Regions from separate parts of the Homo sapiens genome. Here regions 1 and 2 are each linked to region 3. The links come from fine-mapping of genetic effects on gene expression. A gene starts in region 3. Each other region holds a variant in brackets. All regions are shown on one strand. Distances are between the middles of the regions. Region 1 has its middle 9.9 kb from the start of RHPN1-AS1. Region 2 overlaps TOP1MT (DNA topoisomerase I mitochondrial). Region 3 holds the start of ZNF696 (zinc finger protein 696).

The links. PIP is the estimated chance that this variant, and not a neighbour inherited with it, causes the effect. A credible set is the group of variants that fine-mapping cannot tell apart.
Region 1: its variant is the best candidate, but not a certain one, in a credible set for the expression of ZNF696 in whole blood (INTERVAL, PIP 0.75).
Region 2: its variant is fine-mapped to the expression of ZNF696 in thyroid (GTEx, PIP 0.93).

Annotation. Positions count from the first base shown.
Region 1 is chr8:143,356,212-143,361,264 of GRCh38, reverse strand. It overlaps a transcript of TOP1MT not described here. Among named protein-coding and RNA genes, the nearest start is that of RHPN1-AS1, 9.9 kb to the left of the region's middle. The variant T/C (reference allele first, on the strand shown) is at 2,579.
Region 2 is chr8:143,322,758-143,327,810 of GRCh38, reverse strand. TOP1MT (DNA topoisomerase I mitochondrial) reads left to right here. Exons shown (of 14, transcript NM_052963.3): 4 at 1,467-1,589; 5 at 2,278-2,465; 6 at 3,182-3,326; 7 at 3,669-3,812. Among named protein-coding and RNA genes, the nearest start is that of TOP1MT, 9.6 kb to the left of the region's middle. RefSeq lists enhancers at 4,091-4,752, 4,753-5,053. The variant A/G (reference allele first, on the strand shown) is at 3,055.
Region 3 is chr8:143,288,419-143,293,471 of GRCh38, reverse strand. ZNF696 (zinc finger protein 696) reads right to left here and starts at 2,055. Exons shown (of 3, transcript NM_030895.3): 1 at 1,705-2,055; 2 at 407-500. The coding sequence starts at 470. RefSeq lists a silencer at 1,801-2,520 and an enhancer at 1,991-2,566.

The DNA of each region.
Region 1 (5,053 bases), 68 kb before region 3:
CCATCCTCAACTCGCTCATTCTCATTTCCACACCCTACTAATTATCAGACACCTCCCCTCAACCTCTGCAGGCCTGCGGTTTAGGCTCCTACTGTCTCTGGCCTGACCAAGCCCTGTTTCCTCCTGACCTGCGAGCAGTGTGCCCACTGGTGCCATCATCTCTCTGCAACATACAGGGGATCATGTGGGGGTGGTGCTCCCCGGTGCCCGCACCATCGTGTCAACACGCGCCAGCCCTTCCCCAGCCCCACCACGCACACACATGCAGTGCGGCTGACGCTCTCAGCACCCTGCCTTTCCCATGCACCCCAACGCCCCCCCGCCCCCAGCACCTGCAACTTCCTGCCTGAGCGCTTTTCTCAGTGCTTAGGGGTGCTGGCCTATGCCCGGGGCTTGCTGGAAGTGCAGTTGGCAGAGGTGGGGCGGCAAGGATGGCCCCTCAAAACCAGAGCAAACCCACTCGGAACTGTGTCCTGTGCTCTCCCAGAGGCCTCCAGGAGGACTAGTCCAGGGGCCCCGGCTCTCACCTGCTCCCCAACACGTGTACTTCCCTACTCCCTTACCTGTGCTTCCTGAGTCCACCTCCCGGATAAAATACCTGCAGGAAGAGCCTGCTTTGGAGGGAGCCGTACTCCACACTGGCCACCGGTGGCCACTTGCCGTGCCCTTGTACACAGAGCTCCCTCTCGGCCTGGAGGCCTTCGTCCATTCTGCTACCGCGGCCACATCCGCTCAATTTTCCAGACTCAGCCTCTGGGATCTCACGTCACCCCAGACTCACGGACCCCGACATGGCGCATCCTGCACCCCACGGGTGTGGCCTGGCGGCCCTCCTCCTCCCAAGCACTATGTTCAGGCTGAGTGGAGACTCTCGCTAGCAATGTGCAGGCTGCTAAGCAGATGCGACCCGGTGACAGCTTGCACCTCAGGCCTTGCTCCTTGAGCTCCTTGCTCCATGAGCTTTTCTCAAAATACGATCCTCTTTATCTTCAGAGTCGCAGAAGCGCTGCAGGGACTGGCGAGACTCCACCACGTCGCGGAAGCCAACAGCACGTCGGCCCAGGAACGCCCCTCCACCCCGGCCGGCCGCCTCCCACCCCACCTCCTGGGTGCCCGTCAGCACCGCGGCCCACGGAGCGCGCGAGCCCAGGGGCCCAACCGAGCGCAGCCACCGGACGCCCCGCGTGGCCACCGCGTGGGCCTCTCCCGCGCCTGCGCAGCCCGCCCCCTTCCCGGCAGCACCGGCGGCGTCAAGGCAGGCACGTGGCGGCGGCTGCGCATGCGCGGGCTCGGGCCTTCCCGGCGTCTCCGCGCAGGCCTCGGGGAAGCGGGGTCCGGGGGAGCCGTGGTGCGGTGGGACCGCGTGGGTCCTGGAAGAGCTGCAGAGGAGGTGGGACTCGGCCTGAGGGCGCAGGGCCACCAGGAGGGAGGGGTCAGGCGGGGCCCTCAGTGGCCCTCTTCCTGTGGGTGACCCAGGTCGCGCTGTTGGTGACGACCTCCCACATCCCTCGCCTCTCCGCGACTCCTCCGTGTACCTCCCCCTCCGCGCACGACGCCACCAACGTGTCCCCTCCTCCTCTGTGTCCCCCCTCCGTGTGCTTCACCCCTCAGTGTTTCCTCCATCTCCATGGGCCCTCCTTTTGTGTCCCCCCTCCAGGCCCCCTTGTTCTCTTCCCCCTTCGCTTACCCCTCCCGCTCGGTGTCCTCTCCCCTGGCTGCCCCACCCCTCCTCATCGCTCCCTTGGCTCCTGACTTTCTGCTTGGGCCCTGCACCTGGCCAGCGGTGCCGGTCTGGCTGCCTAGGAAAAGGGTCTGGAAACGGCCGTCGCTGATGGGATTCCGCTCTGTCTTCTGCCCCAGAGTGACGGCTTTGGATGCGCTTTGCCCCAGGGCCTTTCTTCCCGGAGTTGGCCTTTTCCCTGCCCTTCTCTTCTCCTGGCGTGGTGACCTGCCTCCCTTCTCCTGGATCGCTTTGCTGGCAGCCACCTTGTAACACCTCAGGTTTGCAGCTGTTTTTTTTTCTTTTGGTCTGGCGCATCTAAAGCCATAAGCTCCCAGCTAAAACCCAAGAACAGGCTATTTTCAGGGGAGTCTCTATGCAGCATTCAAAATAGTCTACTTAAGGGCCGGTGCGGTGGCTCACACCTATAATCCCAGCGCTTTGGGAGACTGAGGCAGGAGGATCGTTTGAGCTCAGGGTTTGAGACCAGCCTGGGCAACATAGTGAGACCCTGTCTCTAAAAAAAAAACCAAAAAACAGAAAACAAAAAAAACGCTTTACTTAATAGTGATTTAAAAAACATGAACATGATGGCATATCACACCCAGGAATATGCTCCAGACCGGCTAATGGAAACTTTCTAGTGAGCCTGGTTGCGTAGTAATGGGGTCAGGAATAAGCACCATCCTTTGGTGGTTGGAGCCAACAGAGGCTCGTGGCCGGTTGCCTCTCCTGCCCTCTCAGCTGCTGCTGTGTTTTCGGTGTCACTCCAGCCGCAGGTGCAGCAGTGTCCCTGCTGCCTGGGTCCAGGCTCACCTCTGTGGAACGGTCCTGCTGCTCACCCCAGGGCCCTGGAGA[T/C]GTGTGTGTTTTCTTGCAGGTGGGGACACTCAGTTGCAGATAGGTGATGGGAGACAGTCGGGGCCCAATTTGAAGCAGTTGCCAGTGGATGATAAAGTTGCTCTCAAGAGGTAGCAAATACTTTTGGGAAGCAGTGGCCTTTGCATGTTTATGATGATGGATTTTGTTGCTGGGGGTGCTTCACCTGCTTGCCCAGCTCTTGTAACATTCGGGTCTAACCTCATCACTACAATGGTAGAGAATGGGGTGGAAGGAGCTGTCTGGGCTGTAGGTCCTGTCTGAACCACAGCCCAGGATCAGAACAGGGGAGGAATGGGAGGGGCGTGATGTCACTGCTTTCCTGTGAAGTTTATGTTTCTTCCTGTCAAAAACATCATTTTGGCACTGGTGTTGCCGTTTCTTCTTTGGAGTTACAGGAGCGTATTTCTTTGATTAAAGGAAGAGAGAGAGTACTGGGCAGATAAGGCTGGAAAATGCAAAGAAGCTCAAAGTGAAGAAGCCAAAGCATAAAAATCAGGGAAGACAGGGCGAAGACCAGGTTCCAGCCTTTTATTTACTGTGAATGTTTCATTTTTATTTATTTATATTATTACTTTTGTGTAGAGACAGAGTCTTGCTGTGTCACCCAGGTGGGAGTGCAGTGGTGATCATAGTTTACTATAACCTCAAACCCTTGGGCCCAAGTGATCCTCCGCCTCAGCCTCTCCAGTAGCTGGGACCACAGGCGTGTGCTACCATGCCCAGCTAATTTTTTTTTTTTTTTTTGAGACGGAGTTTCGCTCCTGTCACCCAGGCTGGAGTGCAATGGTGCAATCTTGGCTCACTGCAACCTCTGCCTCCCAGTTTCTAGCGATTCTCCTGCCTCAGCCTCCTGAGTAGCTGAGACTACAGTCGTGTGCCACCACACCCAGCTAATTTTGTATTTTTAGTAGATACGTGATTTCACCATGTTGGCCAGGCTGGTCTAGAACTCCTGACCTCAGGTGATCCGCCTGCTTCAGCCTCCTAAAGTGCTGGGATTACAGGCGTGAGCCACCGCACTTGGCCTAATGTTTTTATTTTTATTTTTGTAGAAACAAGGCCTGACTATGTTGCTCTGACTGATCTTGGACTCCTTGCCCCAAGCAGTCCCTGCCTCAGCCTCCCAAAGTGCTGGGATTACAGATGTGAATCACCACACCTGGCCTTAATGTTTCATTTTTAAACTCACAATCTTCAACATGTTCAATATGTTGTATTCTTAATTTTTGTTTTTACTCTCGAACTTTTTTTTTTTTTTTTGAGACAAGGTCTCACTCTGTCGCCCAGGAGTGCAGTGGTGATCATAGCTAACTGCAGCCTCAACCTCTTGGGCCCAAGTGATCCTCCCACCTCAGCCTCCTGAGTAGCTGGACTACTGGTGTGCACTATTGTGCTGGCTAATTCTTCTTTTTAATTTTTGTAGAGATGGGATCTCCCTATCTCCCTATGTTGCCCAGCCTAGTCTAGAACGCCTAGGCTCAAGAGATCCTCCTGCCTCAGCCTCCCAAAGTACTGGGATTACAAGTGTAAGCCACTGTGCTCAGCCTCATGAAGCTTTTTTTTTTTTTTTTTGAGATGGAGTCTCACTCTGTCGCCCAGGCTGGAGTGCAGTGGCACTATCTTGGCTCACTGCAAGCTCTGCCTCTCGGGTTCATACCATTCTCCTGCCTCAGCCTCCCGAGTAGCTAGGACTAAAGGCGCCCGCCACCACACCCATCTAATTTTTTCTATTTTTTAGTAGAGATGGAGTTTCACTGTGTTAGCCAGGATGGTCTTGATCTCCTGACCTTGTGATCCACCCTCCTCGGCCTCCCAAAGTGCTGGGATTACAGGCGTGAGCCACTGCATGTGGTCTTTTTTTTTTTTTTTTTTTTTTTTTTGAGACAGAGTCTCACTCTGTTGCCCAGGCTGGAGTTCAGTGGCGCGATCTCAGCTCACCACAACTTCTGCCTCCTGGGTTCAATCTATTCTCCTGCCTCAGCCTCCTGAGTAGCTGGGACTACAGGTGCATACCACCATGACTGGCTAATTTTAGTATTTTTAGTAGAGACGGGGTTTCACTATGTTGGCCAGGCTGGTCTCAAACTCCTGACCTTGTGATCCGCCCGCCTCAGCCTCCCGTAGTGCTGGGATTACAGGCGTGAGCCACTGCACCTGGATGAACCTTTTTGAAATGAGTATTTTACAAGTATAAAAAGCTTTTTTGATCATTTACTTAGATAAATTTAAAAATATGTACTTTGTGTTCACACAAGGTGCATTTATGTCAAATTTCAGAAGGGTTGGATCTGCTGCCAGCATGCTGCCTGGGTCGTGTGTAGGGTGTAGAAGGAGCTGGAGTTAGGTGTGGGGACTGCACGCTTGTCCATCCTGGGAGGGTTGGTTACTGGTTACCTGGAATCCTTTGACGGCTGCTGCCAGGCTTTGGTTGAACTGTAATGGCAAGCAGCCGTG
Region 2 (5,053 bases), 34 kb before region 3:
CTTCCTTGTCCCCTGTGCAGGCTCCGCTTCTGGACCCTCTTCTTTGGCCTGATGCCACCCCTCTGCCTTTCACGACAGCTTTGTGAGGTGGCACCAGCTGCCCGGCATCCTCATTCTCCCTCTGGTCAGCACTTCTTCCAGTCACTAGCAGAGCTAGGAAGGGAGGCAGTGTCACAAAGCAGCAGAACAGGAGTGGGTGGCACATCCGGCGGCCCCGGGAGACACAGGGACGGACCCTGAGCCCGTGGTTGTGGCCGAGCAGGGCTCCATCCTGGCACAGATGGTGTCGTACCTGAGCTCCTCGGAAGAGGCGGATCATCCCCATCCCACAGCGAGACACGTTTGACAGCAGCTCCTGAGGTCTCACAGGCCTAAGTGGCCGAGCCTGGACTGGGACCGTGAGCTGGTGCCCGCAAGCCTGGGCTTTTGTCCATGGGCTGTGCAGAGTTTTTGTTGTGTAGGAAACGAAAGGAGAAACAGTTGCCTGTGATCTGCGGCTCTCCCTCAGGTCAGTGTCTCCTGTTCCCGCGTCCTGGCTTTTCCTGGGCACTAGTTTTCGTGTGAGTGTGATCAGTGTGCCTGTAATGTTTTCCCCACTTAGCATTTTATCCCGCTTAGTCTCCACACGGGTAGATCATCGTCAAACTGTTTTCTGCTGTGCTTTCCAAAATTCACCTTGAAACTGAATCCCCAGCACCACAGGACAGAGGGAGGGCCTTTAGGAGCTGATTGGGCTGTGAGGACTCCACCTTGCTGCAGCCCTTAGGATTAATTTAGGGCCTTAGGGCAGGGCTGGGTGGAATTAGCTGGGCCCCTTCTGTCCTTCTGTCCCCTCCACTGTGTGAGGACAGCCTTCAGGGCATCCTCTCAGAAGCAGGGACTGGGCCCTCCATAGACGTCAAATGCTGGGACCCTGATCCCAGCCTTCCAGCCCCCAGAGCTGTGACTATGATTTACAACTGACCAGTCCCCGGTATTTTGTGGCAGCAGCACGTATGGACTGAGACTTTGCCCTCGCGAATCCCGTCACGTTCACCAGATGAGCTCCCGACCATGTATCCTGCTCTGTCCGGTCATGACGTTTCTGCAGTTGCCCTTAGTGCGGTCGTCATCCGGGTTTTCATACTGGAGAGTTTATTTAGGATGGATCTCAAAGTGGAATTATTGGGTGCAAAGGTTTTAGCCAGTTTTACTACTGACTTGTTGTGAAGTTGCTTTTGGAGAACTGTGCCCTCCGCTGCCCCACCCAACTCCATGCCTGCAATAACAGAACCAGCTCTATCTGTGGGGTCTGCGGGGAGAGGCTCTATTTACGGGGCCGCAGGACCGTGCGCAGGTTCTGCCTATTGCACACACGCCTCCGTCGGACATGGCGAGAGCGCGTTTCTGTCCGTCAGACATGGCGAGAGCGCTCTGCATGTCTGTCCTTCAGACATGGTGAGAGCGCGTGTCTGTGGTTTTTGCAGGAAATGGCGGTGGAAGAGAGGGAAGTCATCAAGAGCCTGGACAAGTGTGACTTCACGGAGATCCACAGATACTTTGTGGACAAGGCCGCAGCCCGGAAAGTCCTGAGCAGGGAGGAGAAGCAGGTTGGGCTGCCTCGAGCGTTGTGTGACCTGAAGTGGCCCCTGGGAACGAGAGGCCGGCCTGGCCCAAAGACTGAGAAAGGCCTGTGGCCTTAGAGAAGCCCCTTCTCACAAAGCTGCTCTTTTCTCGTCAGCCTTAGCGCCCCTGCATGTGCTTAAGTGTCGTTCCGCTTCCCCAGAGCACATTTGAGAGTAAACCCGGTTTGAAATGGATAATTTACCATCATTGATCAAGGGTGGGTTCCCAGACGGGCCGTGGGCTGAGGGCGGGGCTTGTGCAGGCCAGTCGGCTTCTTGCTGTTCTGTGCCATGCGTCTCCCTACATCTAACAGGAACCTGCCGTGCTGTGATCTCCATGTGGCCTTCTCAGGGATTCCCTTAGCCCTCCTCCTCCATGGCGGGCAGCCACGCTCCCTCCACCTGGCTTTACTGCTTAGGCCTAAAACAGCCGAAGTCTGTGCAGGGGCCGGGGAGTCCAGGCCATGGGGTGGTTAGGCCATGGCTCTCGGTGCCCCCTGCAAGCCCACCTGCACTGTCCCCTGCCCCTGCAACCTCCATGGATTGTGAAGGGCTTTGAGGGTCCAGCTGAGTTAGCCAGACAGAGCAGGGTGGTCCCGGGTTAGCAACAACGGACTGAGGCCTGTTCTCTTCTCTTCACTGCTAATGTCCACTGACTGTTTTATTAACTCAGAAGCTAAAAGAAGAGGCAGAAAAACTTCAGCAAGAGTTCGGCTACTGTATTTTAGATGGTCACCAAGAAAAAATAGGCAACTTCAAGATTGAGCCGCCTGGCTTGTTCCGTGGCCGTGGCGACCATCCCAAGATGGGGATGCTGAAGAGAAGGATCACGCCAGAGGATGTGGTTATCAACTGCAGCAGGTGCGTGGCCGGGCGGGCAGCAGGCGGGCACTGGACCCCCGCCACCCGGGTGAGGCTGGCTTTTCTTCACCTCCTGGGAGAGGGAGGCACACCGAGAAACATGTGGTTGGTGACCCCCACACCATTCCTGTGGAGCTCAGCCTGTAGGCGTGGCCGGGCAAGGGCGGCCTTCCCAGGGTGCTTCCCACGGGGTCGGAAGTCCTCGCCTTGCTATGGCTGAGACTTTCTCCCGCCAAGGACACCTCCATGTGGTTTTCATATCCCACACCATCTGGATGGCCCAGTAGCATTAGGTGTTTTGAACTTATTGGAGGGACATTCCAAGTGGTGGAGAGGGGACTGCTGGGCCACATGTTGTACTGTGTGACCACAGGGTGGAGTAGGGACCCTGCCTGCAGGACCCCCAGTGGCCAGGCTGTGTGGGGCAGGGCACTCGTCGTCCCAGTTGGTGCTGAGAGGTCTGTGCAGAGCGGTGCCTTGCTTGGGTGGCCGCCCAGCCTCCTGGTGCACTGTGGCCTTCCTGTGTGTGCAGAGGGTAGATTGAGTGGCTGCTTTTGTCTGAGCTGCCAGGCAGGCCACCTCTGATGCC[A/G]GACTCGGTCAGGAGCCATGCCACCACCATAGCCACCACGTGGGACGGTTGACCAGAGCAGCTCCTTTTGCTTGCATTCCAGAGAATAAGGTCTCCAAGTTATGTTTGGGTCGTTGTTCTGCTGCAGGGACTCGAAGATCCCCGAGCCGCCGGCGGGGCACCAGTGGAAGGAGGTGCGCTCCGATAACACCGTCACGTGGCTGGCAGCTTGGACCGAGAGCGTTCAGAACTCCATCAAGTACATCATGCTGAACCCTTGCTCGAAGCTGAAGGTGAGCGCAGGGCTTGGCAGGGTGTTTCCTCCCCAGGAGGTCCCCCTGAGGACGCCGGCAGGGAGGTGTGTAAGCCGGGCACCGGCAGAGGCTTCTGAGATGGGCTGGGAGTCGGCCAGCCCGTGCTGAGGTCATGCTGTGCCAGCAGGCACAAGCCCCAAAGCCAGGAGTGGGCATGGGTGCTCACTGCCGGCATCACCCAGCTAGATTTGCTGCCCCAGCCCCTGACCACGGCACCACTGAGTGGAGAAGCACGAGGTTTGGGGGAGGGAGAGTTGACAGCCTCCTCCGTTATTTAACAGGAATGTGAATGTTTTCTTTCCTGTTATTTTCTTCGTTTAGGGGGAGACAGCTTGGCAGAAGTTTGAAACAGCTCGACGCCTGCGGGGATTTGTGGACGAGATCCGCTCCCAGTACCGGGCTGACTGGAAGTCTCGGGAAATGAAGACGAGACAGCGGGCGGTGGCCCTGTATTTCATCGATAAGGTATGCGGCCTTCTCGCTTCCTGGCGGCTCTTCATCCTGGTTCTCCTGGCGAGGACTCCCAGTTGGATGGTGCAGTGTGGCGACGTGGGCCTGTGTGTGGGGTGGAACCTCATTCTGATGGGGGGGGTGTGTGCATGTGCACACGTGTGTGGGTGTGAACATGTGTGTAGGGTGTGCATGTGCATTGTGTGGTGTGTGTGCACTTGTGCGTGTGGTGTGCCTGTGTGTGGCATGTCTGTGTGGGGCGTGCATGTGTGTGGCGTGCATGTGTGTGTGGCGTGCATGTGTGTGGTGTGCCTGTGTGTGTGGCGTGCATGTGTGTGGCGTGCGTGTGTGGTGAGCATGTGTGTGGCGTGCGTGTGGCGTGCGTGTGTGGCGTGCCTGTGTGTGTGGCGTGCGTGTGTGTGTGGCGTGCCTGTGTGTGTGGCGTGCATGTGTGTGGCGTGCGTGTGTGGTGAGCATGTGTGTGGCGTGCATGTGTGTGTGGCGTGCCTGTGTGGCGTGCATGTGTGTGGCGTGCGTGTGTGGTGAGCATGTGTGTGGCGTGCGTGTGGCGTGCGTGTGTGGCGTGCCTGTGTGTGTGGCGTGCGTGTGTGGCGTGCCTGTGTGTGTGGCATGCATCTGTGTGGCGTGCCTGTGGGTGTGGCGTGCATGTGTGTGGCGTGCATGTGTGTGGCGTGCGTGTGGTGAGCATGTGTGTGGCGTGCGTGTGTGGCGTGCGTGTGTGGCGTGCATGTGTGTGGCGTGCCTGTGTGTGTGGCGTGCCTGTGTGTGGCGTGCCTGTGTGGCGTGCCTGTGTGTGGCATGCGTGTGTGGCGTGCCTGTGTGTGTGGCGTGCCTGTGTGGCGTGCCTGTGTGTGGTGTGCCTGTGTGTGTGGCGTGCATGTGTGGCGTGCGTGTTTGGCATGCCTGTGTGTGGCGTGCGTGTGTGGTGTGCCTGTGTGTGGCGTGCCTGTGTGGCGTGCATGTGTGTGTGTGCATGTGTGTGGCGTGCCTGTGTGTGGCGTGCGTGTGTGGCGTGCGTGCGTGTGTGGCGTGCGTGTGTGGCGTGTGTGGCGTGCCTGTGTGTGGCGTGCGTGTGTGGCGTGCGTGTGTGGCGTGCGTGTGGCGTGCGTGTGTTGCGTGCGTGTGGCGTGCGTGTGTGTTGCGTGCGTGTGTGGTGTGCGTGTGTGGCGTGCCTGTGTGTGGCATGCATGTGTGTGTGCATGTGTGTGGCGTGCCTGTGTGTGGCGTGCGTGTGT
Region 3 (5,053 bases):
TTTGGATTGTCACAACTGGGAGGGGGCCCTACTGACACCAAGTGGGCAGAGGCGAGGGTGCTGCCGAACGTCCTACAACACACAGGATGGCCCCTCAACAAAGACTCGTCCATTCCAAAACAGCCACGGTGCCAAGGTGGAGAAGCACTGAGAGAGAGACCTTCCCAGAGGCAGAGCCTGGGGCTGCCAGACTTTCTAACCAAAAGCTCTCAGTTCACTGGCAAAGACAGTCACCAAACAGATGCCCAGGAGATCTGATGGGCCTGCGTTTACCTCCCTCCCTCACCCTGCGCCCAAGGACACAGTATATGCTCTGCGTCAGTGACTGAGACATGGTGTTTTTCCTGTATTCCTGTTCAATTCCTGCCCTGGAACTCTGGGCCCGACTGTGGACATGTCCCCTCACCTGCAAGGGACTCCATCAGGGTACTGCTCTCTTTAGCACCTGTGGGCTCTCCTCCTGGCTCCATCTTGCAGAACACCAGCAGTTGGAACAATTTCTGCTTAGGTAAAAGAAAAGGAAAATAAATCACAGCCAGGGCTAGGTACAGGGGCCAGGGGCAGTGAGGTCAGAATGCCTTCAGAGGAAACTGTCAGAACAGGCCCTGTGGGAGCTGCATCACCCAGCTGGGCCCACTCCTGTCACTAGCAATCAAGGTCCTGGCTCAACAGACACTCCCAGAAGCGGGTGTTCTGTTCTGTGGGATGCCCAGGAACTCTGGTCCAGGCTCTGCGGGTCCCCCTCCACCCAGGGCTGACGCAGAGCACAGGTGGGCGTGGCCACAGCTTCCTAGCTCCATGCTGAGGAAGCCCGCGCCCTCCAGCAGTCTTCAAATGTCTAGAGAAATTCCCATGGGTTTTAAAATTTTCTTGGTAGTTATAAGGATTTGAATATAAAAATGTTAAACCAGAAGAAAAGAACAACTTATTTGAATGGTAAAGTTTTGGAATGAGGAATGATTTTTCTAAGCCTGACATCAGATGTCTGACAAATTCAACTACATAAAAAAATTTAATGTAAAAAAAAAAAACCAAAAAGGGAGGAATACGTGCAATGCAAAGATTCATCCCTATCTGATAAAGACCTCTATATATTAATGAGAAAGGAAGGAAAATTGGCAAAGATCATGAATAGGTAACTCACAAAGAAGAAAAACCAGTAGGCAATACATTTTTTTAGGTCTCACCTCAAGTGCAATTAAGAAATGTAATTTGGCTGGGTGCTGTGGCTCACAGTTGTAATCCTAGCACTTCAAAAGGCTCAGGATGGAGGACTGACTGATTACAAGAGTTCCTGACCAGCCTGGGCAACATAGTGAGACCCCGTCTCTACAAAAAATCAAAAAATTAGCCAGGTGTGATGGTGGGCGTCTGTAGTCCCAGCTACTAGGGAGGCTGAGGTGGGAGGACTGCCTGAGCCCAGGAGGTCTAGGCTGGGGTGAACCGAGATTTCGCCACTGCACTCCAGCTGGGCGTTGGAGTGAGACCCTGTCTTAAAAAAATAAGTAAATAAAGTGATTAATTAGTAAATTTAATTTAAGCCGCCTGTAATCCCGCCTGCCAGGGAGGCTGAGCGGGAGGATCGCTTGAGCCCAGGAGTAGGAGGCCAGCCTGGGAAACATAGCGAGACCCCGCCGCTTTTACAAAAAGGTAATTTAAAGTGCAATTTTTTAGTCTGGAAGCAGATTTTTGCAAGTACCTTACCGGCAAGAATTAGGGAACAGGCCCTCCTGTTCACAGCTGGGAAGAAGCTCGATGAGCTGGGCCGGTGGGAAATTTGACAACTTACAAAGGCCTGAAGACGCGCAGCGGGGACTCAGCTCGCAGGAAGCCCCGCACGTGTCGGACCCCGGGTACGCACCTGCAGGGCCGCCTCCCCCACGCCGCGCCCGAGAGCGGCTGGGGCCTGCACTGCAAGGAGAGCGCGGGACGCGCGGGCCACGGCGGCGGTGACCGCCCCGTTCTCTCGGCCGCGCCCTCAGCCCTCCCGAATCGACACCCCAGCAAGAGAAGCCGGGGCCTCAGCGTCCAGAGCAGCTGGACTGCACCCGCTACGGTCCCCGCCCCGTCGCGCGCCGGAAACGCCAGTCTCCACCCCTGGCCCGCCCCCTCGGCACTTCCGGCGACGCTCTGGGCAGCGGGAGGACAGCGCGCTCGGCGGCGGGAGAGCGGGACGGCCCAGCCGCGGCGCCTTCAGCTCATCGGTTGCCCGCAGGCGCCGGCCGAGTCCTTCCTGCCGGGCAGGAAGCCCTGCCTCGTGGGGGGCAAGGTCGAGCCGTTGGCGCGCCGGGATCCGGCTCGAGCCAACTGAGGACCGGGCACCCGCAGGACGTGTCAGGAGGTGTCGAAGGCCCGCTGTGGGGCGGCCACGCGCGTTCCCGTCCGTTCCCCGCGGCGTCCCGCGCTTGTCCCGGGTCCCGCTCGGCTCACGGGACCCTCCAGGCCCCCGGGGCTGTGGCAGCACGCGGGTCCCGAGCGTGGGCTTCCTTGGGGCCGAGAGCTTGGAGCGCCCCAGGCGCTGCCCCCCGCCTCCCTGCAGGACGCCGCCCTCGCGTCTCCGCTGCAGAGAAGCCCTTGCTGCCCGCCTCTCGCGGGCTCTGGGCTCTTTCTCACCAGGGACCGAGCTCTCATTCGTTCAGCCTTCCCCGGGCAAGATGCACCTCCTGTCCAAGTCTCTCGCCCTTCCGCCTGCCGCAGACCGAAGGTCACGCATCTCCAGCTGGAATGCTGCAAAAGTGACGCTTTTCATCATGGGTGCAAAGTGTACAGCTGCAATGTGGACTTGTTCCCTCTTACAACGAGTAGACAGACCCTCTCTGGGGAGAAAAGAAAGGCTGAAGAACCGATTCCCATGAGAGAACCCTAAGAAGACAGCAACAGAGGGCCAGACGCGCCCCTGGAACTGGACCCTGGACTGGGGCGGGAGGGCCACAGCCTTGGGAGCCCAGGTCCCTGCCCGCGCCTCCGACAGTCCCGCGCCGCCGCCACCCGGCATCTGCCTCTGGGCCTCCACATCTCGTGCCTGGAACCGCGTTCATTGCGCACTGCACCAGTAAACACCTGAACACTCCCACCACATGCTGCACGTTTATTTGTAACAAATTAGAAGCTGTTGTAAAAGATAAAAATTAAAACACTTAGACTGGGTGGGCGAGAGGCTCATGAATGTAATCCCAGCACTTTGGGAGGCCAAGGCAGGAGGATTGTTTGAGTCCAGGAGTTTCAGACCAGCCTGAGCAACATAGTTAGAACCGTGTCGACTAAAAATTTTTTTTAAAAATTAGCCGGGCGTGGTGGCCGGCGCCTGTGGTACCAGCTACTCGGGAGGCTGAGGCGGGGGGACCACTTGAGCTCGGGAGGCGGAGGCTGCAGTGAGCCGAGATTGGCACTGCACTCCAGCCTGGGTGACAGAGATTCTGTCGCAAAACAAAAACAACAACAACAACACACACCACACACACACACATCTAAAAGAGATGATGTAGAAGTACAAGTAACCGTTTCCCTCTGCATCCCAGTGGAACGTCGTGGGTCTTCTGAAGACCCTCTCTTGCCCTGCAGGCTCCGGTACTCCAAGCACGCGAGTCTGCGCAGGAGGCGCTTCGCTCTCCGGAGCTCCCCACTGCCTCCTAGACACAGTCCCGGCTCCTTACCCCGGGCGGAGGCTCTTCCAGACGGGTCCCGACTGCCTCTGTATGCCCACTGCTGCCGTGCCAGAAGCCACTGCCCTCTCCTCGCCCCTTTCCAAATGTGCCCTGCCTCAGGCCCGTGTCATGCTGTTCCCTGTGCCGCTTTCGCCCGTCCCCTCACTCCCCGCCACCAGAACCGGGAAGGCGGTGCCCCCTTTCCAGGCCCAACTTCCGGCACTGAACCTCTAGGAGTCCGCAGCCTCCTCCGCCCGGGCCTCTCCCCGCTGGCTCAGACCGCAGGGCCAGCAGCCCCGCCCACACGGAAGCCCCGCCCATCAGGCCGACCCCGCCCCTCCTGCCTCGGCCCCGCCCTCGCCTTGGCCCCGCCTCCTCGCTGGCAGCCGGCAGGCGCAGTCGGGGTCGTGGGACCCAGGAGGGGCCTCCAGCAGGTGCCTTGGCGAAGATCCTGGACTGCGTCACAGCCCAGGGTAGCCGTCCCGCGGCCCGGCTTTGGAGCTTCCCACGGACACCCGGGGCTCTGCCTCCTCCGAAATCACCCCTCACCGCTTCCCTCCTGCTCTCCCACAATGGGAGGCCACACGCTGGGGCCCCTGAGAAACAGAATCGAAAACACAAGGCAGGACTCCAGGGACATGGGGGTGGGGGAGTGAATCCAAGCAACTCAGGACGCCCGCGAATAGCTCAGATCCTGCGAAGAGCCCGCGCCCTGGAATTCTGTTTGCTAAGGGGGTCCTCACGGTGTAGGGTGAGACAGAGAACCTCTGGGCAGTTGCAGGTGGTAAATGTCCATGATAAAGGGCAAGTTCACAGTCTAGAAAATTCTGGATTTCTTGATCCAAAAGTAGCCGAGTCCAGGCCGGAGAGGTGGCTCACGCCTGTAATCCCAGCACTCTGGGAGGCCAAGACAGGAGGATCACTCGAGGTCAGGAGTTCGAGACCAGCCTGGCCAACATAGTGAAACCCCATCTCCACCAAAAAAAAAATTACAAAAAATTAGCCAGGCATGTTGGTGCTTGCCTTAGTCCCAGCTACTCGGGAGGCTGGGGCAGGAGAATTGCTTGAATCCAGGAGGCGGAGGTTGCAGTAAGATTTCGCCACTGCACTCCACAGTGAGACTCCGTCTCAAAAAAAAAAAAAAAAAAAAAAAAAAAAAAAAAGTAGCTGAGTCTTAGAATACCACCCCTTCAAGGACTGTTTCCATGAGCCTATCCACTGAGTCTCTTACCTGCTACCCTGAAAAAAAAAAGTACGATGAAGAAATTACCAAAGGCACCCCTGAAAAACAAAGACAGCTGGGCCTGGCGCAGTGGCTCACTCCTGTCATCCCAGCACGTTGGGAGGCCGAGGCGGGTGGATCACCTGAGGTCAGGGGTTTGAGACCAGCCTGGCCAACACGGTGAAAT